3 separate regions of the Homo sapiens genome follow, and all the other regions are linked to region 3. Evidence: fine-mapped expression QTL. A gene starts in region 3. Each other region holds a variant in brackets. All regions are shown on one strand. Distances are from middle to middle.

What was found. PIP is the estimated chance that this variant, and not a neighbour inherited with it, causes the effect.
Region 1: its variant is fine-mapped to the expression of SLC12A8 in tibial artery (GTEx, PIP 0.92).
Region 2: its variant is fine-mapped to the expression of SLC12A8 in monocytes (Quach 2016, PIP 0.95).

The regions. Positions count from the first base shown.
Region 1 is chr3:125,145,952-125,155,864 of GRCh38, forward strand. The region is part of intron 5 of SLC12A8 (solute carrier family 12 member 8); the gene reads right to left. MIR5092 (microRNA 5092) reads right to left here and starts at 5,601; the gene lies at 5,514-5,601. RefSeq lists enhancers at 1,220-1,289, 1,700-1,759, 3,090-3,279, 3,300-3,369, 8,192-8,693 and 1 more and a silencer at 8,929-8,978. The variant C/T (reference allele first, on the strand shown) is at 5,648.
Region 2 is chr3:125,115,684-125,125,596 of GRCh38, forward strand. It overlaps SLC12A8 (solute carrier family 12 member 8), which reads right to left. Exons shown (of 14, transcript NM_024628.6): 7 at 4,916-5,003; 8 at 3,086-3,173. It also overlaps the pseudogene RNU6-230P. Among named protein-coding and RNA genes, the nearest start is that of MIR5092, 31 kb to the right of the region's middle. RefSeq lists enhancers at 4,768-4,817, 4,820-5,326, 5,327-5,832, 6,038-6,257. The variant G/T (reference allele first, on the strand shown) is at 4,411.
Region 3 is chr3:125,208,321-125,218,233 of GRCh38, forward strand. It overlaps SLC12A8 (solute carrier family 12 member 8), which reads right to left and starts at 4,428. Exons shown (of 14, transcript NM_024628.6): 1 at 4,380-4,428; 2 at 2,979-3,074. The coding sequence starts at 3,029. RefSeq lists an enhancer at 3,549-4,148 and silencers at 4,040-4,089, 4,100-4,319, 4,360-4,509.

The DNA.
Region 1 (9,913 bases), 62 kb before region 3:
CTGACTAGCTGAGACAACAGGCTGGCGCCACCATGCTCAGCTAATTTTTTATATTTTTTGTAGAGACAGGGTCTCACTTTGTTGCCCAGGCTGGTCTCAAGCCCCTGAGCAGAAGCAATTCTCCCACCTCAGCCTCCCAAAGTGCTGAGATTATAGGCATGAGCCACTGCGCCTGGCCCAAAATACCTTATTGTACTATACTATTTTTATCTATTTTTGGACCACTGTTGACCGTGGATAGCTGCAACTGCAGAAAACAAAACTGTAGATAAGGGGAACTACTGCCTATGAAATATCTAGAATAGGCAAATTCAGAGAGGCAGAAAGTATCATAGAACAGAAGTTAGTGGGGGCGGAGTTTCTGTTTGGGGTGATGACAAAGTTTTGGACGCAAATGGTTAGGATAATTGCACAACAGTGTGAATGTAACTAATGCCACCGAATTGTACAGTTAAAAACGGTTAAAATGGCAAAGTGTGTGCTATGGATATTTTACCACAATAAAAAACAAAACAAAACAAACAAACAAACAATCAAACAAAACCTCAAGCCATTTCTTTCCACAGCACCCTCCCCAGGGATCCTCAGAGATGGCACCCTGCATCCTTGCTTAAGGCCTGGGCTCCTCCCTGCCGTACAGATGTGGGAATAGAGGACAAAGGGGGCTTCCTGGCCAAGGATGGTGGAAGGTGAGGACAGAGCCACAGGCCCTGCCTACTAGTTGTGGCCTCCCTCGGAGTGCAGCGGCATGATCACGGCTCACTGCAGCCTCCACCTCCCATGGCTCAAGTGATCCTCCCACTTCAGCCTCCCGACTAGCTGGGACTACAGGCTGACGCCACCATGCCCAGCTAAGTTTGTACATTTTTTGTAGAGACAAGGTCTCTGTTTGTTGCCACAGGGAACACCTCTTCCCACCACAGGGAGGCCCTTCCTCCACGAGAAGCAGGGCGGGGAAGCTGCCCAGCAAGCCATCTGACCACCAGTCACCAATGTAGGCAGAAATCACTGTGTGCTCAGGGGTTTAGGTGGAAAGGACCGTTGTGCTCGGGAGTTTGCCGACGTCTGGAATCCTTGGGGTTTTACTCAAGGGCAAGGTGTGTGAGAATTTGCAGCAAAGCCGTCAAGAAACACAAAGTGCAGCGTCTCAATATCAAGCACGCCCAACTTCCAGGGAAGACTTCCGCAAAATCAAGGGCGCTGTTGTCCTAGTCCTAGGGTCAACACATGTTCTCATTTTCAAAACTTTCCTGGTCACTGGGACCCAAGGCCTGGGAGCAGCATTTAACCTGCGGTGCCACTAAATGAGAGCCGGCCTTGAGTGAGTGTGCCTTTAACCCGGGCTGCCCTGGGCTACTGCCATATCACCTGACCTTGCAGCTTCAGGCTGCACTCCGCTTCCCTTTGTGGGGCTGGCAGGGGCACTCTGCTCTCAGCCTTCTAGCTCTGAGAGGAGAAAACCAGAAGTGGCCCCTTCCTGTGCCTCTGTGTGTTCCTTTGCAAGCCGTTGTGTGCCTTTTCTGCAGGCGCTTATGGAGAGTGAGGTGTGTTTGTACCATCTCCCCGTCAGATTAGGAATCCTCAAGGTCAGAGACAAGTTCCCTCCTCCCTCCGGATCCCCTCCTCATCCGCAGGTGGCTGCAGTCACTGGGGTGCTGGATGAGTCCAGTGACCATACATCCTGCCCTACATCCTGCCTGGACAGCCTGGGAAGTGTTTTGATGACTGATCAACCCAGAGAGCACGAGGGGAGAGCAAGAGGAGGAGAAAGGATGCTGCTGCTCCTGACTGAACGTGATTGAGGTGCCCCAGGAAACTACCTTGCTATGCAAAGTATGGTCCCCAACCTGCGGCATTGGAACCTTCATTTTAACAAGATCCCCAGATCCTGAAGCACTGCCTTAGAGTATAACCCAGGGCCTCCAGGGACCTACTCTTCCAGGACAAGCAATGATAATGACAATGATTATTTATTGAGCACCTACTTTGTGCCAGGCATGACACTAGGCCTCTTATAAACATTATCTTATTTTATGCTTTGGCAACCTAGCGAGGCAGGCGTTATTACCTGCTTTTCAGAAACAAAGAGAGCAGGTCAGAGAGGTTAACTACCTTGACCAATTCTATGCAGCAAATTATAGCTGAGCTGGAGCTTGAACCTGGAGGTCTGACTCCAAAGCCATGTCTCTGACAACTGTAGTATATGTGATGCAATCTTTCACATTAGGCCAACAAGGACAGCCACTTGCCAACTCGCTATGGGGCCCAGAGATTTAAAGGCAAATGCAATCCCCAGGGAGATGTCTAGAGGCTGCCCCATTGCCTAGTGCTGGCCTGGGGTGTGGGCACCTATGTGTTGGGGTTAGGTCAACCCTGTGGCAGAGGCCTCAATATTTCTTCAAAACACGTCCCTGAAGATGAAGGTGCATGCCTCAGTCCCCAGGGAGCATGAAGATCCAGGCAAGAGGGACATGTAAGTTGGATTGCGAGCAGGCCTGGAAGCTCTAGCACTGGCCTTGTCTGGGCCCTGGAGTGAGGGTAGTGGGGAGAAGAGTGGGGTGGGGGGCCCACGTGGGTCCTTTGTATATTATTTAACTTTCAAATTTGCAATTTGGGGCATCATCTCCTGCCAGCCTCAGGAGGCGGCACTCTCCTGCCAGCTCCACCTCTGGGTTCACTCCCACCCCCAACCCTCGGCCAGCACTCACAGGCTGCTCGCACCACAGAGCCCACTCTCTGCATGCCCACTGTCAGCCCAGGACTTCCTGCCTTGTTCTCTGGGTCTGTAGCTGGCTGCCTTGCTCCCCACCCAAATGTGAGTGACTTGAGGGCACATATCCCACTTTGTGCTTTATACAGACCCACCATCCTGCCTCCTACCCCAGGAGGTACCCCCAAAATGGTGAAGCCAGAAGTGCCTTCAGGGACGCTTCTACAGTCACATGGAGAGTAATCTGCAAATTCCCCACAGCCAGGGGACACCTGCCACGTGCAGTGAGAGGAACACAAACCAGCAGCGGGGGGGCACAGGCAGGATGTGTCGGCCCACCCCTCAGCGGTCACCCATCGCTTCCTCGGAACTCCCAGCTGCTCAGGGCTGAGGCGGGCGAGGCTCAGAAGTGTGGAAGGGCCCTCCCCAGCTGGTGACTGCATGTGGCAGGCATCCATACCCGGAACGCCCAGCCAGGGAGTCGGGCCAGCCCATCCCTCCTGCTCACAGAGTCACAGAGTGGGAGCAGACTCGGGGGTCGAAGCTGGGCAGCGCTCGCTCGCACTTCCTTCTGCAAACTTGACCAGGTCCCACGGCCTCTTCAGCCCATGGCTCCTTTCTCTGATCCCCAAGCCAAAGCCAGCAAATGAGAATAATCCAGTAGAGACAGCTGGGTTTTGGGATCAGGGTAGGGGCTCAGAGCCAGGGGTCTGGGATTCTGGTCAGTCAGTTTTTCTTCATCAGAATCAATCTCAGAACAAGAGGGAGGCCTAAGGCATGCCTGCTGCTGGCCAGGGGTGATGGGGACCACTGCCCACAGAAAGCCTTCTAACAAGGGCTGGATCCAAACAATCAAGGAACAAGGATGCCTAAAGCATTAGTTTCTCATCTAGCCAGAGAAATATTAAATGTGCAACTCACATAATTTTACAAACAAGAACCACCAACATAAAATAAGTGGAATATTGAAAATATTCAACAGGTAGAACAAGTCAAAGAACATGCTTTGCTTCCTATTCAGGCCAGGAAGGGAGAGAAAGAGAAGAAATGGAAGGTGAGGAGGGATGGGGAGATGGCAAAGTGGGGGCAGAGGGGAAAAAGAGAGACAAAAGGATTGGGGAGAAAAAACAGAGAGAGAAAAGCATAAAGGAAGAAAGGATGAGGCACAAAGAAAAGAGGAGGGAGAGCAGGTGGATTTTGGGGAATGCTGGACAATTGGTCAGGCTTGGTCTGCAGAGGCTCAGAAATCCTTACCTGGACATGAGCCTTTGTTTATAATTCTTCACTGTTCTAACCCTGAAAAGTACCTCTGTTCTAATCCTTAATCTTTCCCCCTTCAGGTCAAGAATGCCTTTGAGAATCTGGCAGTAGTTCTGAACCCTGTCCTAGAAAAATACACTTATTTACATACAATTTTGCATGCAACTTCAGGGGCTCAAGGACTCTATGTTAAAAATACTTATTCTAGAAGCTCCACTCTGATTGGGAGACCCATAATGGCCAAAGCAAAAACACCTCAATTGCCAGATGAAACTAAAATGAGGGTGGGATGTGTTGTATTCAAGTCTTCACATTGAGCTTTAATCATACCATTGGCTTCAGTGACAGAATTTAGGGCCTAAGCACCTTCTCCTGGTTACTACCCCAACAGTCATATTGGAAGCAAGGCTGGTTACTCCAAGGGGTCCATTGTGTACATGGATGGTTATTTCGCAGTAAGGGGCCTGTCAAAGACAGGTAACAATGTGTGAGTCAAATTAACCCTTTACAGATCAATAGGATTAGTAAATCCCATATACGTAGTAGTTTCCAAATCTGAATGTACATAAGAATTTCCAGTATGCTTACCTAAAATGTAGATTACTAGTCCAAAATTTGAGAGTATGGATCAGACTGTTTTTCTAATGAGTTTCTAGATAATTCCGATACAGGAAATCTCCAAACCAAACGCTGAGACACACTGTTCTCAGAGAACATTGCAAGCCTGAGAGGCTGAGCTTCTGGTCCCACAGGTCAGCTGATTATCTACTCCTTGCAGTGCGATTCTTGTACACTAGGGGGTAGGACTGAGCACATATACAAGGGCACCGCAAGACGAGGTTTGGACTACTGCATCAAAAAGGCTACCTTTACAGGGGAAAATAGAATGAGCAATGCAGAACATGAAAGGTAGAGTGCCAGGAGAAACCTTCCAAGGGCCTCGAAGACAGTAGTTCCCAGAGCTGACTTAAAAATCATGATAAAAAACTACCTGGAGCACTTCTTACAATCCAGATTCCCGGGCCTCAGGCTATTAGGAAACGCGCTCACACACACACACCAAGTTTCCTCAGGGATTCTGATACACACGCAAGTATCACAACTTGTTTGTTTATGGCACTTCAAGCCCAAGGGTATTTTGATCACTATACCAGACCATTATCATAAAGACGCTTCGAAAAACTAAAGTGCCCTTATAATTCTAAAGCAAAAAACAGTGAACATTACCAGGGTTTTCTTCTTCTTTTCTCTTCCTCTTCCTCCCCCTCTTTCTTTTTCATTGAGGAGGCTAATTGGAGAAGGTGGGCCACGCTGGAATGCCCTGAATGGGTTCCAGATGGTGAAGTCATTGGCCTCTTGGCCCAACTGTTCCTCCCTTTTCCCTGGAGTGCTGTACAAATATTATCATTTTCTGGCTGTGCAGTGACATAAAAATGGTTGAGAGGCTCTAGGTCAGGTGTAAAAGAAACTCATGGAAAGGGAAGAACAGCTCGGTCCAAAAGAAATTGTGGAGATACTTTCCGATTCTCTGCAAGGTGGAGAATCCCAAATCAGATGCCAAGCTCAGCGTGGATTGGTTTGGGCTCATCATGTTGTCCAGTCCCCACTGGCTTTGGCATCTGATCTGGGATTGTGAGGGGGTGCGGTAGGTCTCAAGAGAAATGCTGAAGGGGCAGC[C/T]CTGCTTCCGGCTGCTTAGCAGAGTGGTGGCGACAGGGAAACCCAGGCACAGATTGCAGATCCTCCGCCCAGGGAGGATGACCACGATAACAAGACTGTCTTACGTTTATTTAGAATCTTCCTTTGCCAAGGCAATCGTATTTATAGTAGTTGCTCATTTTGAGTATAACTTTTTAAAAACATTTTGATTTTCTGAAATTTGGATGTCTTACAAGCAACATGAGGACTTAATGTAAGGCTTTTTTCCACCTGAAAATTTGGTGTGAATTAAAATTGATGGTGACTTGGAATTGAGGAAATACGTTTTATTACATCATTTAATCTCTAAATAATCTGTGAGGCAGATATTATTATTCTCTATTTTCTAGAGGAGGAAACTGACGCTTAGGTGATTTCCCCAAGGTCAAGGATTGAGAAAGTGGCAGAGCCAGGACTAAAATCCAGGTTCCAGTATTTCTTCCCTGATAATGTCTGAGCAGATTTGTTCATACACTAGGAATTTGGGATTGCAGAGTAATTGCTCCAGAACTGCTCCAAAAACTGGCTGCCACCCACAGTTACTGGGGCAGAGAAAGCAAGAAGTGACTTTCCTTTTGCTTCAAGTAGAAATTTGAGGGAAAAGAAATAGAAATGTATATAGGTTTGTATGGTGGCTGTTTGTTTGCTTTAGGCCATAACAGAAGTCCCTTGATTACTTCAGGAGCTTCAGAATGTACCATGCTCATTCCTCATACCACGATCACCTCTGGTACGTGTGAGTTTAAAATGGTGCTCATTCGGTCATTACAGATTTACTGTTTGAATTTGTTATTTTATTTACTTTAGAATGCTTTTCATTTTTAGCAATCAGGATTCTAGAGTGTCATATCTTTAAAAGTCTAGCATTTTTATTTCTGCCAGTTCAAGAGGATGCAGGAAGAAGTTTAACAGAAGAAACCGTCTTCAAAATAATAAAACCCCAAAATTATTCTCTACAATATCCAGTAAGTGCTGATTTTCTAGAAAACAGTTGGCAGGGGGAGAGAGAGAAGGAACCACCCCTCCCCCCAAACTCAAAGAAAAAATAACTACTTTGGACATATTATTTCTAATCCTTTAAAAAACACTCTTCCAGGAGGGTATTTCTTTCCATTAGACAGATGGACAAACTCAAAGGGTTTCGGTGACTTGCCCACAGCCACACGGCTAACAAGAAGCATGTGTTCTGATAGCATTAATCAGAAAAGCATATATTGCTGACATGGATTCCCTGTTTCATGAGGGCAGGGACCATCGCTATCCTATTCTCCGCTGTATCCCAAAGCCTACCTCCTGGCACCCCGTAGGCTTTGATGACTACCTATAGGGTGGGAGGATGGGAGGAAGAAAGAAAGGGAGGCGGAACAGGTGTGTGTGCAGCCAGGCGCTCCGTCCACCCTGCCACTCCTCTTCTTTGGAGACAGTGCTCTGACAATCTGTTCCATCAACTCCATTCTCCTGCAACTCTCATCACACTTTCACAAGCTGCGCAGATTACGTTTCCTAGGACTGTGTCCATCCATCTGCCTCACTGGATGCTGATCCACTCTGGTGTGTTTCCCAGTCAGTCACTCAGCAAAGTGCAACCGAGAGCCAACCATGTGCCCGGTACTTTCCAAGATGCCAGGATAAAACGGCAATAATATGGGATTCCTGTGCTTGAGGTTTTTACAGCCTGAAAAACAATGACCTCTGCATTTCCTACTCAGCACCGCGTGCCATCAACATCCAAGGTATGGGGATTTTCTGTAGCTGCCTATCAAACTCTCTCAGCTACCACCAGTGCTTCTTTCTGCTATATCTGATGCCTTGTTTTGTTACTTTCAGAAACACCAAAGGATGGCCGCAATTGAGGGACTCTTCTCAATAGCATGTTCTTGTGCTTCTTCATTTAGGACACATCTCCCATGCTGGGAAGTACAAGACAAATACGAGGAGTTGGGCAAGTGTCGCACTAAGTTCTGCCCCTGGCTGGGCAGCCCACTGACTTCTAAGAGATAATGAAATTTATGTATTTATTTATTTATTTATATATTTTTTGAGATGGAGTCTCACTGTCTCATCCAGGCTGGAGTGCAGTGGTGTGACCTTGGCTCACTGCAACCTCCACCTCCCAGGTTCAAGCGATTCTCCTGCCTCACCAGGAGAATCTTGTGATGCTGTAAGATGATAAAATGCCTATGTGACGAGACAATGTGGGGCGGATGACGCAGGCATCGTGACATAGCACTTGGCTATTATTGGCCTTGAGCTCTGGACTAGCTGGGGTTACAGGCGCGTGACACCACACCCAGCTAATTTTTGTATTTTTAGTAGAGACAGGGTTTTACCATGTTGGCCAGGCTGGTCTCGAACTCCTGACCTCAGGTGACCCACCCACCTTGGCCTCCCAAAGTGCTGGGACTGCAGGCATGAGTCACCATGCCCGGCCAGATGATGAATTTTAAAATCAAGTTTTATTATGGGGAAACTGAAGACCCACAGATATTGGGGTGCTGGCCTAGGGTCCCACAGACAGTGGTAGAGAGAATGCTGGCTTCAAGTCTCCCAGTGCAAAATACTTTAACTACCGTCCCCTTTCACTTCACTAGTCAGCAGCTTCGCAAACTGCATTTTCAATGCCATGCCCTACATGGGACTTATGTGTCCTGCTTGTTTTCTAATTCAGTCAGTGAAGAGCAGGCGGCCCCAGCAGCTGGAAACAATGTGAGCTTGATGGTTAAGGACATGGACCCTGAGGTCAGAAGCCAGGGCTCAAATTCTGGCTCCATTGCTTACCAGCTGGATAACTGCTGGGCAATCTAACCTCTCTGAACATCAGTTATCTCATCTTTATCATGGGGACAATAACACACAGGGACTCCATAGATAGGATATAGTGAGATGTATAATGCTTAGTATAGCACCTGGCACAAACAGAATGCTCAATAAACATTAGCTATTACAGTATCCCCCCTCCCTTATCCATTAGGGGTACATCCCATGACCCCCAGGGGATGCCTGAAACCAAGGATAGTACCTAACCCTATATACACCACGTTTTTTCCTATATATGCATACCTATGGTAAAGTTTAATTTATAAATTAGGCACAAGAAGATATCAACCACAATAATTAATAATAAAATAGAACAACTCTAACAATATACTATAATAAAAGTTATGTGAACGTCTCTCTCTCAAAATAGCTTACCATGCTGTATGCACCCTTCTTCTTGTGATGATGTAAGATGATAAAACGCCTACGTGACGAGAAGTGAGGCGGATGATGCAGGCATCGTGACATAGCACTTGGCTATTATTGGCCTCGAGCTCAAGCCCTCTGCTACTTGACAGTTGACCTGATAACCAAGCCAGGTACTAAGTGACTGATGGCAGGCGGTGTGTACGGTGTGGCCACACTGGACAAAGCAGGGTTCATGTCCCGGGTGAGACGGTGCAAGATTTCATCATGCTACTCAGAATGGCGGGCAATTTAAAACGTATGAACTGTTTGTTTCTGGTATTTTCCATTTAGTATTTTCGGACTGTGGTTGACTACGGGAAATGGAAACCATGGAAAGTGAAACCGTGGGTGGCGGGGTGGAAGCTACTGTGTTACTTCCCTTGCTCACCGCACCACCTTCAAATCTTAAATTCAAGAAATGTACAGCAATGTGAATTGACCCAGGACTTTTTTCTCATCTTAATAAATTATTCCACCTTACTTTCTTCTCTGCTTACAAGCAGAAATATACTCAGTGTTTCAAAAAGTATTAATTTCGGCGAGGCTGTTTGGTAAAGAATGTCTGATAAGGACACTGTGAGATTCTGATGCAGGAATTGATGTAGACATCTGACATAATTTTCTGATGGCTTATTAGAAATAAGTTTGAGCCGGGCGCGGTGGCTCACGCCTGTAATCCCAGCACTTTGGAAGGCTGAGGCGGGTGGATCACAAGGTCAGGAGATCGAGACCATCCTGGCTAACACGGTGAAACCCTGTCTCTACTAAAAATACAAAAAAGTAGCTGTAGTCCCAGCTACTCGGGAGGCTGAGACAGGAGGATGGCATGAACCTGGGAGGCGGAGCTTGCAGTGAGCCAAGATCACGCCACTGCACTCCAGCCTGGGTGACACAGCGAGACTCTGTCTCAAAAAAAAAAAAAAAAAAAGAAGGAAGTTTGAAAGGACTAAGAGCAGGGTAACAGTTGATGAACCACTTTTCTTAATCATTATTGCTTACTCTTGCCAAAAAAAAAAAAAAAAC
Region 2 (9,913 bases), 93 kb before region 3:
CCTGCAGCCATTGAAGATAATTGTTCTGGCAGAAAGCCCCCGAGAGAGAGGAGTGCATTTGGGAGCTGCTTGTGAACGAGCGCCAAGGAGAGTATGTCAGAGACCCACCCTGTCTCAGTGTCCAGAGGTGATGCGCGGGGCACACATACAGAAGAGGCCTTTTTTCAGGCCCAGGAAAGCTCAGAGATGCGCCGGCTCAGAACTGAAGCCACAAGTAAGACAGGAAGCTGAGGTGAACAGGTTATCAGGGTGGCCGGTTGTGTCAAGTGACCAAAGTAAAGAAACTCCGCCCTTGCACCTCCCAACCAGTGTAGGTTGCACCCTCCCATTCTCCAGGTACTGCCAGTAAAAACATCTGTGGCCCAATCTACTGCCTGAGCACGGTACCTGCTACTGCAGCGGAGTCAGTCCCAAGGAGCGACACCAGTGAGCAGGAAAGCAGAAAAGGTGTGGGAGGAAACTCCTGTGTGGTCCCCTTTAGGGGGTGGGTAGTGGGAACCAGAAGACCCAGGTGCTGCTATTTTGAAGTCATCAGGGTCGGTTCCATCACTGCTTACTGACTTGCTGCACCTGCCCATTTCTACTGAGAACCAAGAGCAGTAGCTTTGTTCCTTTATAGGCTTTACAATGGTCTCTTCCAGGGAATGGTCTCTTGTCCTCTCCGAAAACTAAATCTCCACATTTCATCCCAGTGTGTGCATAATTACATTCCCAAGTGTCATTGCTGGGCCTGATGAAGCAGGTGCCCCCAGCTGGCTAAGTGCTTGCCTACCTGCTCATTGTCGGGACAGGTGGCATTCCACAGGAGGCTCCCCCGGTTTGTGTGCCTATCATTAGGTGTGGGATTTCCACCCACAAAGGCTCTCATGTGCTGTCTCTGGGCTGTTTTTACCCTACTGCTGTTTGTGGCCTTCCTTAGATACAAAGCTGCCTGCCCTCCCATATACCTACTCTGATCATTCCCTTGAAAAACAGGGGAAGGAGAGGAGGGAGGAGAGCTGCGGCCCAGGGGATAATCAGATCAGAGTCCCTAAAGGGTGGAAGGACCTCTGTGAAGGAAAGCATGAGAAAGGAACTTTAGAAGCAGGCAGAGCTGGTCAGCCACTGGCAAGCTGCAGATGAGCAGGAAGCATTTCCCTCGGTCAAACCAGCCTCACCCAGTCTGCTCCCTGAGGCCTTCAATTCCTGTAATGCAGCCAAGCTTTTCATTCCACAACTAGAGAACAGGCCCTTGGGAGTGAAACTTCAGACGGAAGCATGCATGTAGATACAAATGAGGGCTATAGATTCCTGCCCTGAGAGCAAACCTTGCCACCTGGGGGTCTGTGACCTTGGGTACTGGAAAGTGGGTATCAGTTCTCTCACTAACTGAACTGTACTGCCTTCCAAAAAATCTGCTTTTATACTAAGGGCAAGACCCTTGAAAACAAATAATCACCTTTGCATGGGTGCCTACAAGCCTTAAAAAGAAACCTGTGCTAATGTGAAAACCAAGCTCAAACATATCTCTCAAAAGAAAATTCAGAGTTTCCTGCCCCAGGTTGCCCCAGGCACTGGCCCTCCATTAAGACCAGCAGGGCTGCTTTGCAAAGCCTCACACCAAGAGAAAATGGTAGTCTATCCTAAAATATAGGGGCTCATGCCTGTAATCCCAGCACTTTGGAAGGCTGAGGTGGGAGGATCACTCAAAGCCAGGAGTTTGAGACCAGCCTGAGCAACATGGCGAAACCCCGTCTCTACAAAAAATTGAAAAAAAAAAAAAAATAGCTGGGTGTGGTGGTGCATGTCTGTAGTCCTGGCTACTTGGGAGGCTGAGGTGGGAGAATCACCTGAGCCCTGGAAGTTGAGGCTGTAATGAGCCATGTTCACGTCACTGTACTCTAGCCTGGGTGACAGAGTGAGACCCTGTCTTTAAAAAGTTAAAATTAAAATATTAAAATTTAAAATACATAAAATATAAGCAGTGATACTCAGGAGTTCACAGAAAAACTCCCTAACCAACTACATTTCTCTGAAAAATGATGGGAATCTCAGGGTCTACTTTTTCTCCAAGAACTTAAAGGAGGGTGGGAGTTTTTGGGGATTTCCAGAAAAATATCTGGAAATCTTATTCATGTGGCTTCTAGGATGCCAAATAAATGTCCTTGATGTCAGATGACCTCCAGCCAATGCCAGGAATTCATTAATCTTCTCCTGGCAGGGTGCAGACTCTAGAAACAAAGATGTTGCAGCCAAATCAACCCAGAATGTCTGAGACTCTCAGGAAAGCCAAAGGGGTCAAGGACCTGAGGGACAAGGAGGGCCTCGGCCCTCACCCTGGCACTGGGCTTCCGCCCGCTCCCTCCACGTCTGCCTGTCCAGCCTCCTTCTCCACTTGCCACTTCTGAGCAGCACATTTGATTCATTGTGGAAGGTGAAGCTATTAGCAAAAGTGAGGCACTTGCTTAACTGGGAATTTGGGGTGAGCAGATTCTTCTGTTTCTGTCCTGATTTTTGACAGGAAGAGATGTCCCCATTATCTAGCCCCTCATATTTGTGAATCCCTCTGGGCATCATTATCTGTTTCTAGAAATCCCTAAGCAGGGCCTGTACCTTTTCCATCATGTCTCTTCCCCACCACAACCCAACACTTCAGTCCTGGGCTAGAGACTATATGAAGGCTGGGCGTGGTGGCTCACGCCTGTAATCTCAGCACTTTGGGAGGTCAAGGTGGGAGGATCACTTGAGGCCAGGAGTTTAAGACCAGCCTGGGCAACATGGTGAGACCTCATCTCTACCAAAAAATTAAAAAAAAAATTAGCCCAGCATGAGGGCATGCCCCTGTAGTCCCAGCTACCTGGCGGTCTGAGACAGGAGAATTGCTTGAGCCTGGAAGGTTGAGGCTACAGTGGGCTGAGATTGCAACACTGCACTCCAGCCTAGGCAACAGAGTGAGACCCTGTCTCAAAAAATAAATTAATTAAATTTTAAAAAGACTATATGGATTCCCAGACAGTACTGCAAGGGGAAGGTGGCCATTTGTTGGTGAGAACAAATAAATGACTCCGGCAGACTGAGCCCTTGGAGTAGCGCAGGCCTCACTCACCTTTTCCGCTATCAGGAAGTCATAGCGAAGGGCCTCTCGAGTGCAGATGGCGCCCAGGAGGAAGACGAAGATGATGTACAGAAACCACCTGCAAAACCCAAGAGCAGAACAGAGCTGCCCCCGACTCACCTCACCCAGCCCCATCCAATTCCCTCACTCAACCTTCTGTTTCCAAAGGGAACTTGTATCAGAATGAGAGAAAGGCCAGTCATGAAGCTTCCCCAGCTGGCTTGGGAGGACACTTTTTGTACTATTTCTCTTCTGGCATATTTCTTACCAAAAAAGGGGTACCATTGTTTTGTTTCTTTTTTTACTTTTAAATATATATAAAAATATGGAACACTTCACGAATTTGCATGTCATCCTTGCACATGGGCCATGCTAATCTCTGTATTGTTTTAATTTTAGTGTATGTACTGCTGAAGTGAGCAGTTTTTTTTCTCTTTCTTATATTAAAAAAGAAAAACATACAAAGGGCATTCCGAGTAGGGAAGTGGGAGGCCCAGTTGCCTCTAGGTTGCCAGGATTCAGGCCAGGGTTGCCCCGCAGCCTCACACCCCAGCCTCCTCCAGCAAAAGAACAAGCTGATGATCCTTCGGGCCTCTAAGTCCTGCTGGTCTGTTATCTTTGGATCAGATAATAAAGAGGGAAACTAAAGTCAAAAGGCAGAGAGCAGAGGCCTGGCTCTGTCCCCAAGATGCCCTGTAACCTTGAACAAGACCCAGGTTCCTGTGGTCTCCTCATTCCCATCTGGGTAATCAGAGGATGGGCCAAGGGTTCCTCCTGGAACCTCCCAGCTGGGGCCAGAAACAAGACAGGGTCCTCATTCAGAAGCCTCTTTCTTTTATTTCCTTCCCAACACTCAACTCTATCTCTGTTGTCTTCATTTTCTTCCCAATGTTATTGCACAAAATACCCTGATGCTGTACGCCAGGCTGATAGCAATGGTTTCACTGCAGTAAGCTAAGAACAAATTCAGTGTTTGTGAAACAGATACATTAATATTTTCTAAATACTGTGGTTAGAATAACACAGGCCCTTTTAACTTCTCAAGTCATTGTTTCTGGTCTCTGATCTCTTTGCCTCTTCACACCTACCCAATGAAGGGCAGAGAAGCTTCTTCCTGTGGTACAGAGAGAAACAATATTCTAAAAGGTCAGAAATAGACCCAAGGTTACCCAGCCTGCTTGTGTGGGTGGCACAGTGTGAACTAAAACCCCAGAGGCCTGACGGCCTGGGGGAGCTGGAGGGGAGGCTCACTGGGGGAAGAAGAAGAGCTGGGTGCTGAGCTTCCACTGTGTGCCTTCTCTCCCCGCCGCAATCTA[G/T]GAAGCACATACAGTGTCATTATCCCCATTTCACAAGAAAGGAAATGGAGGCTCAGAGAACTCAGTAAATTGTCCAGAGTCATGCAGCCAATCAGCGGCAGAGCTGAGATGCAGCCCCAATTCGTCTGATTGCAAAACTCTTCATCTTTATGCTCCCTCCAGTGATCCTGGAAACTCGGTGGTTAAAAAAATCCCCAAGTTCAAAATGGGGGTGGGGGAGGGACGGGGGCGGGAGGCCGAGGAAAGGAAAGAAAGGATTCGATCTGTGATCTGGGTCCCGACACTCCTCCTCGGCAGCATTCCCAGGCAGGGCGCATGAAAGGGCAGTGTCTGAACCCACCAGACGTGAATTTTCCAGCCCACCGAGTGTTAAAAGAAGGATCGGAATATGAAATAGATTGGTCACAGTCGGGGCACTCTCAGAACAAAAGGGGCAATCCCTCTTCTGCCTGGGGTTTTCTCTCCCACTCTCTAGCTCAGACTGATTGCCATGAGGGGAACTTACGAGATGCCAACAGCTGCCAGGGAGCCCAGGGGAATGCTGGCGGCAGGCTCCCTGAGGTCGCCCCCCATGTTGAAGCCGGCCATGACTCCTGAAAGACACCCAGATGGGGAATGGGGTGAGCAGCCTCCTCCACGCATCGCCTTCCCCAGGGCTGCCCCTTCCTCTCCTGCGGGACCCTCTCCTGGAAGCTGTCCCACCGCAAGCCCTCCAGCTGCAGCTCTGCGCATAGGCTGCTTTTCAATCTCCCCTGGCAACTAGGGAGGCATCCCTGTGGCGTGAAAGGCACCTTTGTGGGTTGGAGGAGGCTCAGGAGGAAAGCCCTCCCAGCTCCAAAAGCATCCTACCGCTCAGCGCAAAGCAACCAGGGGGGAGGAAAGCGGCTTGCAAGGCACACAGAGGTCCTGCGCTGCCTGCTGAGCTGGGACAATGCCCTGGAGAGGCTCAGCATTACAAAGGTCTGGCAGCCTCCTGCTCAGCAGCTTTCCCTGCCTCTGCTGCCTGCTGATTCCATGGGAGCTTCCTGTGTCCTCGGGGTCAGGTACCATCCTCCAAGCCCCTGAGCTACCAAAGGGCTTGAAATAAACTCCAAAAAAACCAATCCTGATGCCACTGACATGGAGTCACAAGCTCCTTTTCATCATCACCTCTCTTCTGCAAGAACACTAATGAAAATGAATTAATCCATGAGGGACCCACAGCACAGTGCTGCATGGTGAAGTGGGGATGTTGCCTCTTCCCATACAAACAAATATATGAAAGCAACAAGACAGGGTGTTCTGAACATCGGATGAGGATCCAGCCCACAAGTGCCATAACAACTCAGTGTGATGGGCTGCCCTGGTCAGGAAAGACCCGTGGAGGGGGTTGTATCTTGAATGTGGCCTTGAAAGAGGGATTTGAATGGGCTTAGGGATGGGAATGAATCTAACTCCATGATTTGTGAACACTTTCAAACTGCCTGGGCCTGTGTCAAGTGCTTTACATGCATTTTTTTATCCTGTTTAATTCTCATAACAACCTCATCAGAAAGGTAGAATTATTTCCTCATCTTATGGAAAAGTGTTCAAAGAGGTTAATTAAAACAGCCTAAGGTCACACATTTAATAAGCAGCAAAGCTAAGATTCAACCCTGGTCTGTCTGACTCTGAAAATTATGCTCTTAATGCCTCTGCTACAATGCTTCACAGAATCCAAGCGAAGTGCAGTGAAGTGACAGTTTGGAACCAGAAAGTGAAAGTAGGGGGGTGTATTTCAGAGAGAACCCTGAATGCTGGCCCGCGGATGGGGTGCATATACTGTCACCCAGCAACTCCACTATGAGGACTTTACCCATCGTAGGTAGTCAAGGCTATGAGGGAAGATTTAGCCCAGCGTGTTTATAAACGCTTGTTTAGAATAGTGGAAATTAGAAACAACCTAATGTCTAAAAATAGAGGGTTGGTTAAATAAGTGATGATATAGCTTTCAATAAATACTAGGTCTCAGAATATTGTAAGGGATATGTTGTGACATGGAAAGATGTTTAGAAGCTTTTGCTTAGTTTTAAGACGCATATTAGAAAACAGAACACATGGTATGATCCCATTATTATAAAAATATATAGAAAAAGGAACTGGAACATGTTTTAAAACATTAACAATGTTATTTCTGGGTGATAAAAGAACAGGTCATTTTTATTTGACTGTTTATATTTTCTCAATTTTCTACAATGATCATTTTGAAACGTGAAAACTTTTAAGGTTTTGTTGTTGTTGTTTTTGTTTTTGTTTTTAACGGCCTGTTAGGCACATTTTCTTTCCTCTCATTCCCTCCTCTCCAAGATCCTATTAAGAGCATAGTAAAGGGGAAAAGTAGATAAATTCCCATAAGCAAAGAGAAGTTGGGAGGAGGACCCTAAGTAGATGAAAGGTTCCCATGAATGTCTGGAACATAGAACATAGAAAATGGAGAATATAATACCGAGGAAAAGAGAAGGAAAGAAAGCCTCGGAATGCTTCTCTACAAGATCTCAATACACTGAGGAAAACCAGGGCTGGACGTTTGCACCCCAAATAAAGCCCTGCTCAAGAATCAACAGCACTCACAAACTTCTCATCAAGGTAGGGCCCCAGCAGGGAGACAGACCTAACCATGCGACAGCTGGGGAAATCCATGCCCACAACCAAGATCACCCAATGTGTGATGAAAACCAGCAACAAATAAACAAATACACGCATAAATAGAAACAGAACAACCCAGGCTGGAAGAAACATAAATCAGGATACAGAGAGAATTTGGAAGAAAACACTAATTAGTAGCTCCAGGTACATCCAAGAAGAATATTCTATCTATAAAACAAGGTGCTATGAAAAAAAATCCAAGAACAACAAAGAACTTTTGGAAATTAAAAATATGATCATTAAAATTAAAAATGCAACAGATTTAAGGGCCAGGTGTGGTGGTTCATGCCTGTAATCCCAGCGCTTTGGGAGGCCAAGGCAGAAGGATCACTTGAGGCTGGGTGTAATGGCTCACACCTTTAATCCCAGCATTTTGGGAGGCCGAGGCAGGCAGATCATCTGAGGTCAGGAGTTCGAGACCAGCCTGACTAACATGGTGAAACTCCATCTCTACTAAAAATGCAAAAAGTAGCCAGGTGTGGTGGTGCACACCTATAATCCCAGCTACTTGGGAGGCTGTGGTGGGAGGATCACTTGAGCCCAGGAGGTAGAAGTTGCAGTGAGCGGATATCATGCCACTCACTCCAGCCTGGGTGACAGAGATCCATCTCAGGAAAAAAAAAAAAAAAAAAAAGAAGGATCCCTTCAGGCCACAAGTTTGAGACCAGCTTGGACCACACAGCATCTCTTCATAAAATAAAAAAGTTATCCGGGCATGGTGGTACACACATCCCAGCTACTCAGGAGGCTAAGGCAGCTTTAATTGACTCACAGTTCCACATGGCTGAGGAGGCATCACAAATCATGGCAGAAGGGGAAGGAGAAGCAAAGTCACGTCTTGCATGGCAGCAGGCGAGAGAGAGCTTGTGTAGGGGAACTCCTATTTATAAAACCATCAGATCTCGTGAGACTTATTCACTGCCATGGGAACAGCACGGGAAAGAGACTCACCCTCATGATTCAATTCCCTCCCACCAGGTTCCTCCCACGACACATAGGAATTGTTACAATTCAAGGTGAGATTTGAGTGGGGACACAGAGCCAAACCATATCATGACATAGTGCTCTTTATTCCTCGCCATTGTTGTACCTCCTACAGTTTGTCAGGTCATTTTGTACACCTTCCTTCAGATCTTTTATACAGAAGTTAACCCATGAAGACCCCTGAGAACACCACAGCAATATATGCTTCTGTGGAGGAAAATGACTGATTCATCCTAATTGCTTCCTGCTTCCAAACACTTACTGTCTCCATAACAAACCCCCTTTACTCCTCCCCCAGGTTCTGTGTAGGCTGCCTGTTGTGCAGTACATTAGGATGCTGCTCAGTGGGAGGAGAAAGGACTGACCGTGACACAGGAATGAGCCAGGCCCAGATATGGCCAGAAACTTGGCTTTTGAGACAAAACAGAGAAGCCAGAAAGTAGATTATATCACAGACACAAAGAGCCAGAAACAAGGAGATGCAGGCAACTCGGACTGCAGACAAGAAGTCTCACGGGTGATTCCTGCTGGGGCAATGTGGGTGGTTCCCACAGCAAAGTGTACATTTGTTTGTGTTTGTTTGTTTGTTTGGATTTTTTTTTTGAGATGGAGTTTCCCTCTGTCGCCCAAGCTGGAGTGCAATAGTGTGATCTTGGCTCACTGCAACCTCCGCCTCCTGGGTTCAAGTGATTCTCCTGCCTCAGCCTCCCAAGTAGTTGGGATTATAGGCACCTTCCACCATGTCTGGCTAATTTTTGTATTTTTAGTAGAGATGGGGTTTCACCATGTTGGCCAGGCTGGTCTCGAACTCCTAACATCAGGTGATCTGACTGCCTCGGCCTCCAAAGTGCTGGGATTACAGGCATGAGCCACCGTGCCTGGCCTGCACATTTGTTATAGGGGCTCACACACTGTGGCTGTCATTTCCAAAATTCTACCTCTGTGTTACCACACAATTCTTGGGCAATGTTCCCTAGCTTCGGTGAATTATAAATGTCTCATTCACTAGTTAGAGCTAGAAAAATTATTTTGACTTAGTATTTTTTTCCTGTCTGTGTTAAGTGTCACAGAAATTCTCTAGTTTGCTTTCTTTTTGCATCCAGTGCAATTTTAAAACACTATCATTAAGGTTAGAGTTACATTTAGGGTTGGCGTAATAGAACAAATACTATTTCCCAGAGCATTAGTGCCCAGGTGTTTTACAAATATTACATTTTTTAAAAAGTTCCACAATTGAAAATAAGGTTGGGAAAACCTTAATTAGAGAGGTTTTCGGTGCTGGGCTATTGTAGTGCCTATAATATGCTAATATTCATTGTCCATCTCTAAGAAGAGAAATACAGCACACAGTTTCGCAAAACTTATTTGGCATTGAACCCTTTTTTTTTTTTTTAAAGAAATGAAAACTTTCTTCATTATTAAAGTTCCACAGAGCACAGTTTGGGAAACACTCAGTGCCCATTTTATAATTACTATTTGGTCTCGACACTTTTCTTGGCGGGCTTCCAAAAATTGTTTAAATTTGGCTATTTAGGACTGGATGGAGTGGCTCATGCCTGTAATCCCAGCACTTTGGGAGGCTAAGGTGGGTGGATCACCTGAGGTCAGGAGTTGGAGACCAGCCTGACCAACATTGTGAAACCCCGCGTCTACTAAAAATACAAAAAATTAGCCAGGCATGGTGGCACGCACCTGTAGTCCCAGCTACTTGGGAGGCTGAGGCAGGAAAATCGCTTGAATCTGGGAGGCGTAGGTTGCAATGAGCCAAGATCACGCCACTGCACTTCAGCCTGGGTGACAGAGCAAGACTCCGTCTCAAAAACAATAAAAATAAAAAATAAAACAGTTATTTAGA
Region 3 (9,913 bases):
GTTTGAGACTCCTGCCTTATGTCTTCTGCCTGACTCAGCTGTGCTGAGTCATGCATTGATTTGCCAATGGATCCTTCTGCTCATTTATACCACTACCCCCTGGATTAAATACATACTCCCCTTAGTTTAATTATTAGCCATTTATATAATATAAGCTGAATGCTGACCAGGAACCAAGCACTATACCAAATATTTACACAAATTATCTCTTTTAATTGTCTTCATTCTCTATGGTAGTTTCAATCACTGGGCAGTCATTTTGTAGGTGAGGAAACGGAGGCTTAGTGAGGTTACGAAACTTGTTCAAGGTCACAAAGTATTAGAGCCAGGACTTGACCCAGGCAGCACATGCACCCTCGACCACCACACCATTAACACTCAGATCTACAGCTCCTTCCCAGCTGGTTCACTTATTACTGACCAATCTACACACACACACACACACACACACACACACACACACACACACACAGAGAGAGAGAGAGAGAGAGAGAGAGAGAGAGAGCTACCCTATCTGGTCCTAAAATGATTAAAGCCAAACCAAGAGTCCATTCATTCACCCTCCACCTAACTTCCAAGTGTCCCCACCCTTGCCAAACTTCCTGTGAGCCACTTTCTAATCACCGTGACCAAGAGAAGAGCAGGTCAAGACTGAAGGTGGCATGACACCCACTAGCCTGTCTTCCCACTGGGCACTGCCTCCTAATCTTGTGTTCTGCAGGCCCCAAAGCTCCTAGCAGAATTTCTGATCCCCAAGACTGGAATAAAATTGTTCAAAGGTTCCCAGGAAATTTCTTGAGGGCTAGCCACTCCTAGAGTTCAGCTTCCAGCATTTTAGCCACCTAACTTACTCTCTGTTCCCACGCAGAGGTCCTTAATTTGCCATCTGGGTGGCTTTGCTTATACCATTTGGAGCAGGAGGCACATAGCAAAAAGGATGAAAGCTTGGGACTTGGCATCAAACATGCCTGGCTTTACAGTGCTACAGTTATTCTTGTGTCAAACCAAAATAATCATATCAACTTCAGAATGTTGTAGTGGAGATAAATGAGGTAATGCATATTAAGTGCTCAGTATACAGTAAGTGCCCACTAATTGGTAGCTATTATCATTTTCTCACCCTCCCACCTGGAATATGCTTCCCAAGTCCACCATATGTTCCACTTCCACCATTACTTTAAGACTTAATGCAAATGGCAACTCACCCAATTCCTAGCCAGGTAAGTTCAGTTCAGTAGAACCAACACTGATGGGGCAACTTCTATACACAACACACCATGCCAGGTATTGGGGATACAAAAATAAATAAGACATGCCCCTGAATTTAAGTTCACAGCTTTAAGGGAGACAGAAAAGAAGCAGCTCATTTCAATGCTACATGGTAAGTGCAGTGACACAGGATGCTGTGGAACAGAAGGGGTGAGTTAACCATCACGGAGGGCCCTGGCGGCCAAGATGAGGAGTCTGAGCTGAATTCTGAAGGCAGTGAGAAGCTATTGAAGGAATTTAAGCAGAGGGGTCAAATGCACAGATCTATGCTTCATAAAAGCATCACTTTAGTAGCAATGTGGAAAAAGAACTTAGGAGAGTATGAATCATCCAATCAAGAAATGGTACCTTAACAAGACAGTGCAGGGGAGGGAGAGAGAAAGAAAGGATGGATTTCTAAATCATGAACACCAAAGGCCTTAAAATTGGGCATTGGGCCATGTCCAATCCTTCGATGTTTAGCTATTAAGGGAGAAGGAGGCAACACAGAGGTCATTGTATCCATCACATTTTAGAAATCAACTCTCTCTTAGGGCACTTATGACAATTTAACTTGCATTGTGGTTTTCTGTTGTTTGTTCATGTGATCAATCAACTAAAATTTACTGTCCACTTAAATACCAATTTAAATACTTAAATACCACTTAAATACTTGGGTGAAGGTTTCAGTGACAAATTGTTGATAAGAAGCATCAGCAAAGATCAAGGGAAAGATATAAGCTCTGGGGAATGGTGTGGTTCAGCTGGAAGGTGTGGCAGGAAGAAGAAGATGTGGGGAACTCGACTTGAGACTCAGGTGGGGTCAGACTGTATAGGGCTGAGGCTGAAGAGTTTGAGCCCTGAGTGGTGCACATGAGGAGACACTGAAGGTTTTAAACAGGGGAGAGAGGAACAGATGCCATCACAGGGGAGATCTCAGAATGTCTTATTTGTCTCTCCTTTGGGAATTCCTGGGCCTCACATTTTCTGTCTGGGTTTCTTGTTCATTGTTGATTCTCTCCCCTCTGATGGGGCTTGTCCCCCTGTTACAAGGCTGGGAAACCCTCCTGCCACTCTCTAGAAGCAGGAAAGAAACCCAAGGGATGGTGAAAACTTCATGTTGAGTGATCATGGATGGCAAAGACCCTGGGTGCACATAGTTTCTGGATAAACACTTTAGTATGGTTTATTATTATTATTATTTCTTAAGGGATCAGCTCTCCATTTCTGGGTAGAGCCACTTCAATTCCATATCTACAGAATGCATGTAACTAATGATCAGCAGGGAGAAGATAAAGAAAAAAGAAGAAAAAAAAATAGCAAACACCAGGGCATTCAGAAATCCTTTTGGCTTCAGAACATAAGAGTTTTTTCAGAAATAAATTTACCTTCTTACATTGGTTTGATTCAGAATTAAAATGAGTTCATATTATCTGAGTCCTCACTGTGACTGTCTGTGGAAGACCTCTCAGGATGGAGTTTGGAGTTGTGGGGGATCCCAGGATTCAAAATCCACCACAAATAATGCCAAAGGTTTTCTGTATATGAACAGTTAATAATGGCTATAATATTTTGGCTATAATATTTTCTCATTGAACTGGATGACCAAAATAGACTTTGGAGTTAATTACATCTAAAGGGTGCGCTGTAATGTTTGCATCCAGCCCACTGTCTGGGGATCCCCGTGCTCACAGGCCTCCATCACAGACCCTGGCACATCCTGAGCCTACCTGCTGGGCTGCCTCATGGAAGAGCTCCTGCACCTGGGACATCTGGGTCATTCTCCAGCAAGCAGGGATCCTGGTGATCTGGACAGGGAGACTGCTCTGGAAGGTAACAGCATCCTTGGTCAGGCTGGCTTCTCCTCTCCTCTCCCCTTGTTGTCCATCCTTTCTCTCTACTAGAATTGTTCAAACTACCAGGCGAGGCCCTGGCTGAGGAAGAAACCTTGTCTACCTCATCTGGAAACTTGGCCGGGTTACCTTTTTGGTACCCAGGTAGATCCCGCTGGTCCTTCAGTGCCCACCTGTGCTCAAACCTTGCTGCCCTAGAACCTCAGGCACTCCCAGCTCTCTCCTTCCCTGAGCTCCTTAAATACGTGAGGGTCAGAGCCAGCTGCCCTGCTGCCCAGCCCTTGAGGACACAGAGTCACACTCCTCTCCCACCCTCAAGTGCCTCGTGAACCCCTCTCTCCAGGAGGAGGGCATCATGACGCACTAGACCTGGCTGCAGGTGGTGAGTGAATGTAGCTGCGCCCTGAGCAGAGGGGAGAGGGGCCATGAGGAGGCTGTTTTGGGGCCCTTCTGGAGCAGGGCCGGAGAAGGGTAGGAGATTGAAGAGGGTGAGTGAGAAAAGGCTGGACAGGACTAGGGCAGCTCCTCAACCCACCCCCAGGCACCCTCCCCTTCGCGCTGGACCTGGCTTTCCTTGAGGGGAGGAGGGAGTTTGTCCCCTTGATCTGTGTGGCGCCTCTCCCCAGCACAGTGCTGCAAGGTAGACGGGGCTCAGGACCCTTTGGTAGAAGGAGGAAGGGGGAGGAAGAGAGCGAGGGGGAGGGTTAGAGCTGATCTTCCTGGGAAGAAGGCGACTAAGGACAGCAGCCAGCGCTGGCGAGGAGGGAAGGCGCCCGGAGCACTGAGTGGGGGGTTGGGAGAGGAGGGTTAGCCCAGTGGGAAGCTGGGAAGGCTGGGGGACTTGGTGGGCTGCAGTCCTGCCAAAAGCCGGGTGACAGGTAGGGAGCCAGAGCACCCGGGTGTCCCCGGCTGCCCGCGCCGCACAGAGCAAGGGACCCCAGGCCTCCGCTCGCCCTTCCCGCCGCCCCGCGGCCTCCGCAGGCCGCCCCGCAGGCCTCCGCCCACATTCACCTGGCTCCTCCGCGGAGCCCCTACCCTCACGTTTGGGCCACGCTGGGACCCGGGCCCCTTGGCACCCCACGCAGACGCGGACCCGCACCCCAAGTACTGGGGCCAGGCCCGTGTGCCGGCGCGCGGGTGACCGGCGGTAGGAGAGGATCCACCTGGGCGGGGAGGTGGGGGCAAAGGTGACCCCAGGCCTGGCTCCTAACTGCGGGCCGGGGAGAGGAACTGTCCCGAGACCACCCTCTCCACCCCCCACAGCCCTTCCGCCCTCACCTGCTCCTGGGACAGCCAGCTCCCAGCGCCCGGCCCGCCCGGTCCCCGCCCCGCCGCCACGTGGCTGCCCCGGCTCGGCTGCGCGGGTCCCAGCTGTCCCGTCCCGGCGGGGGCACCCCTGCCACGCCAGCACCGGGAGTCTCGGGCCCAGGTGGCGAGGAGGCGCTGCAGAGGCTTTCCCTCCGCAAGGGTCGGGCCTTCGCGCCTACCTGGACAAGAACATTCACCTGGGTAGGGGCAGGGCTGGGGGAAAACAGGGAGTAGGGGCCGCAAGCCCACAGGCTCGAAGTGACCAGCCACTGCCTCTCCCCCCTCGACAGTGCAACCAGCGGAAATGCCCAGCCCCGGGACCAGGGGACTAGGGACAGGAGCCTACCCTGTGCGGCTCTGAGGAGTGGCTGTGAGCACTGCACGCAGGACTGAGAAAGCCCGGGATAAGCCCGGAGTGCAGGGAAACCCGCAGCCCCCTGGGCAGATGTGGAGAAGAATCTGGACAAGCTGACCGAGACCCCGGTACCGGGGGTCTCCGTGTGTGCCTGGCTGCGTGATCAGGTGACCCCAGACTCTGAGGGCGTGGAACTGCTTTTGCCAGGAAAGCGCTCTGGGCATGCTGTGTAGGGGTGAATTACCCTTACCCCCTTCACCAAGACCCAGAACTGCCTTTCCTAGGGGTGAAGTAAGGTTTCCAGGGCCTCATGTTGCAGAAAAAAAGAACCCTAAATTAACATACAGAGAGATTAAATTATCTCCATTCCCAATCTGGCATATTTCCTAAACCTTAAATAATTTGAGAGGCTTCCATGTGGGCTTCTGAGAAACAGGAGGGCAGCTGGGAGAACTTCCCACGCCCACAAGCCTTTGTGTGAAAATCCCTAAAAATAGAGGTTGTTCTTCTAAAAACAAAAGGGAAGGCTAAGCCATGGGAACACTGACAGAACCTAACCTCTCGCTTCTGCTCCAGCAAAGACGCGTGTGAAGATATAGAACATCATATTTGCCATTTTTACCATTTTAACTGTACAGTTCAGTGGTATTAATCACACACAATATTGTCCAACCATCATCGCTATTTCCAAAACTTTCATCGTCCCCAATAGACACTCTGTACCCACTAAGTACTAACTCCCCGTTTCGTCTACCCTCAGAGGTAACTCCCCTCATCTACTTCCCGTCTCTATGGATTTACCTATTTTGTGTATTTCATGTAAGTAGAATCATACAATACTTGTCCTTTTGTGTCTGGCTTACTTCACTCAGCATAATGTCCTCAAGGTTCATCCATGTTGTAGCATGTGTCAGAATTTCATTCCCAGCAAAGAAATTTTTAATAACCCATCTCTGCCAGAAAAAAAGACCCCCCAAAAGTTACAGATTAACCATCTGTGAACAAAGGATGAATGGGCGGACAGGCTGACACAGTCACGTTACTGGAATCCATTATGCAGTCACCGCTTGGCATCTGCAGGAAATTAGTTCCAGGCCCCCTGACCAATACCAAAATGCGTAGATGCTTAAGTCCCTGATATAAAGTGATGTAGTATTTGCATTTAACCTACACACATCCTCCCACATACTTTAAGTCATCTCCAGATTACGTATAATACCTAATTCAAGGCCAGGCACAGTAGCTCACACCTGTAATTCCAGCACTTTGGAATTACAAAAATTCCAAATCTCCAGGCCAAGGTGAGAGGATCACGTGAGCCCAGGAATTCAAGACCAGCTTGGGCAACACGGTGAGAGCCTATTCTTTTCCCCACAAAAGAAATTTTAAAAATTAGCTGGGCATGGTGGTGCATGCCTGTAGTCCCACCTACTTGGGAGGCTGAGGTGGGAGGATTGCCTGAGCCCAGGAGGTTGAGGCTCTAGTGAGCCATGATCATACCACTACATTAAAGCCTGAGTGACAGAGTGAGATCCTGTCTTAAAAAAAAAACAAACAAACAATCAAACAAAAAAAAAAAACTATGTAAATTGTTGTTATACTGTATTGTTTAGGGAATAATGACAAGAAGAAAACTTTGTACATGCTCAGTACAGCTGCAACCATGCTTTTTTTTTTAACCAAATATTTTTGACCTGCCTTGGTCAAATCCACAGATATGAAGGGCTGACTGTATTTCCACAGATTCATCAGAATGATCAGCAGAGTCATTTTTCTTATTCACTTTTGGTGGGTCATACATGACACTGCTCTTTTTTTTTTTTTTTTGCCTCAAGCTGGTTTCCTGTTTGCTGTCACCTTCCGATGAGTCTCCCTCTAAGTGTCAACATGAATTTTGAAGAATCTGCATTCAATTCCATATCAGCCTGAGTTAAAAACTTTAGAATGGGGAATCCACCTCTCGCTTTATAACCACCTACTTCCTGTCACTCGTCATTTTCTAAATAAATGAGAAGTTCCCTTCAAAGCTTATAAGCATCTTCTAAACCCAGAAACAAATATAGTTGTTTATTTTCTTCATGTTAAGGCTACAGAAACCTGCCCTTTGCAAAGAAAAATATATATATATCCTGCTTAATGTAGATTTTTCTTATAACAATAACACTAACCTTAAAAAAACAAAAAAACAAAAACAAAAACAAAAAACCTCATGTTGAAAAATAGTATCCTGGCTGGGCGAGGTGGCTTGCACCTGTAATCCCAGAGTTTTGGGAGGCTGAGGCAGGTGGATCATCTGAGGTCAGGAGTTCGAGACCAGCCTGGCCAACATGGTGAAAAACTGTCTCTACTAAAAATACCAAATTTAGCCAGGTGTGATGGTAGGCACCTGTGATTCGGGAGGCTGAAACAGGAGAATTGCTTGAACCTGGGAGGTAGAGGTTGCAGTGAGCTGAGATCATGCCACTGCACTCCAGCCTGGGCGACAGAGTAAGACTCTGTCAAAAAAAAAAAAAAAAAAGAGAGAGAGAGAGATAGTATCCTGCATATCCTTTAAACATTGCCATTTTGAAGATACTGCCCTACATGAACTAGGAAAAGCATGTTTGTTGCATCATTACTTTGTAATACTTTAAACAATGAGAACAACCTAAATGTCCATCAACAGAAGACTGCTTAGATAAACGGTACAGCCATACTATGACAGCTGGCATTAGAAATAATTAGGTGTTTCTGGGCTGGGTGCAGTGGCTCACGCCTATAATCCTAGCACTTTGAGAGGCTGAGGCCGGCGGATCACCTGAGGTCAGGAGTTTGAGACCAGCCTGGCTAACATTTGTTTTTTTTTTTTTTTTTTTTTTGAGACAGAGCCTCGCCCTGTCGCTCTGGATGGAGTGCAATGGCATGATCTCGGCTCACTGCAACCTCTGCCTCCTGGGTTCCAACGATTCTCCTGCTTCAGCCTCCCGAATAGCTGGGATTACAGGCGCCTGCCACCATGTCCAGCTAATTTTTGTATTTTTAGTAGAGACGGGGTTTCACCATGTTGGCCAGGCTGGTCTCGAACTCCTGACTTCGTGATCCGCCCCCTCAACCTCCCAAAGTGCTGGGATTACAGGCATGAGCCACTGTGCCCAGCTGCCTGGCCAACATTTCTCATAAAAATACAAAAAATAAAAACCCCATTTCCTTTTTTTTTTTTTTTTTTTTTTTGAGACGGAATCTCACTCTGTTGCCAGGCTGGAGTACAGTGGCATGATCTTGGCTCACCACAACCTCTGCCTGCCAGGTTCAAGTGATTCTCCTGCCTCAGCCTCCCGAGTAGCTGGGATTACAAGCGCCAGCCACCACACCTGGCTAATTTTTGTATTTTTAGTAGAGACAGGGTTTCATCGTGTTGGCCAGGCTCGTCTCGAACTCCTGACTTCAGGTGATCCACCTGCCTCGTCCTAAAAACCTCATTTCTAATAAAAATACAAAACAAATTAGCTAGGTATCATGGCGTGTGCCTGTAACCCCAGCTACTTGGGAGGCTGAGGCACAAGAATTGCTTGAACCTGGGAGGCGGAAGTTGCAGTGGGCTGAGATGGTGCCACTGCACTCCAGCCTGGGTGGCAGAGTGAGACTCCATCTCAAAAAAAAAAAAAAAGAAGCAAAGAATTAAATGTTTCTATACATGCTATCATGGAACTCTGTTCATCACATAATAATGAATAAACACAGCAAGTCGAAGAATAATGTATAGTGTTGTTTTAAAAAGCAGTGTACACACACACACACACACACACACACACACACACACACACACACACATATATGTGGTTTGTATAGAAAAATATGGCCGGGCGCGGTGGCTCATGTCTGTAATCCCAGCACTTTGGGAGGCTGAGGCGGTTGGATTACCTGAGGTCGGGAGTTCAAGACCAGCCTGACCAACATGGAAAAACTCCGTCTTTACTAAAAATACAAAAACATTAGCCGGGCATGGTGGCACATGCCTGTAATTCCAGCTACTCTGGAGGCTGAGGCAGGAGAATCGCTTGAACCAGGGAGGCGGAGGTTGCGGTGAGCCGAGATTGCACCATTGCACTCCAGCCTGGGCAACAAGAACAAAACTCCATCTCAAAAAACAAAAAAAGAAAGAAAGAAAGAAAAGAAAAAAAAATACACATCAATCTGTTAATAGTGGTTATCTCCAGGGAGGGATTGAGATAGTGAGTATAGACTTTGGTGTATAAATTCTGAATTTTTGTTGTTGTTGTTCTGGTAGAGACAGGGTCTCTGTTGCCCAGGCTGGTCTCAGGCAATTCTCCTGCCTCAGCCTCCCAAAGTGCTGGGATTATAGGCATGAGCCGCCAAACCAGTCAATTCTGGATTTTTATTTATTTATTTTTTCTTGCAACAAGCATACGTTACTTTGGAATCTGGAAGGGGTGGGGTGGGAGATGAATAAGAAAATTAAAAAACAAACAATGTGGGGTAGATTGTATTTCCCATATGCTCTTCCTACAATATGATGTTGGGATTCCTTCAAAAGGAGTTAGGGTCTATGTTACCTCCCACTGAGCCTGAGTGGACCTTTTTAAGTGCCCCAGCCAACAGGAGAAATGGCAGAAATGACACTACATGACTTTGTGGGCTAGGTCCTAAAGGCAATACGGAGCCTGGCTTCCTCACTGTCAGTGCACTTACCCTTGGGATTCAGCCACCATGTTGTGAGGAAGCCACATGGAGAGGCCACATGTTGGTGTTCCAGCCAATAGCCAGTGTCAACCACTGGACATGTGAGTGAAACAAGCCTGCAGATGATTCCAGCCGCCCGCGGAGGCTCCAGGCATTGTAGAGCAAAGACAAGCTGTGCTTGCTGGGCTCTGTCTGAATTCCTGACTCACAGAACCCATAAGAGAAAATAAATCATTGTTGTTGTTGTAAGCCACTAAGGTTTGGGGTAATCTGTTACGCAGTGATAGTGAATACCTAGAGCATCCAACCAAGGTTAAAAAAAAAACATTTTATTTCCCTTCAAAGTATTTCTATTTATTTCATTGTTTGAATTCACTGTTTTTGAAGCCCGGTTATATATATAAAAAGAATAATATTGCTATTAAAACTCACTTTTTTTTTTGAGACGGAGTTTCGCTTTTGTTGCCCA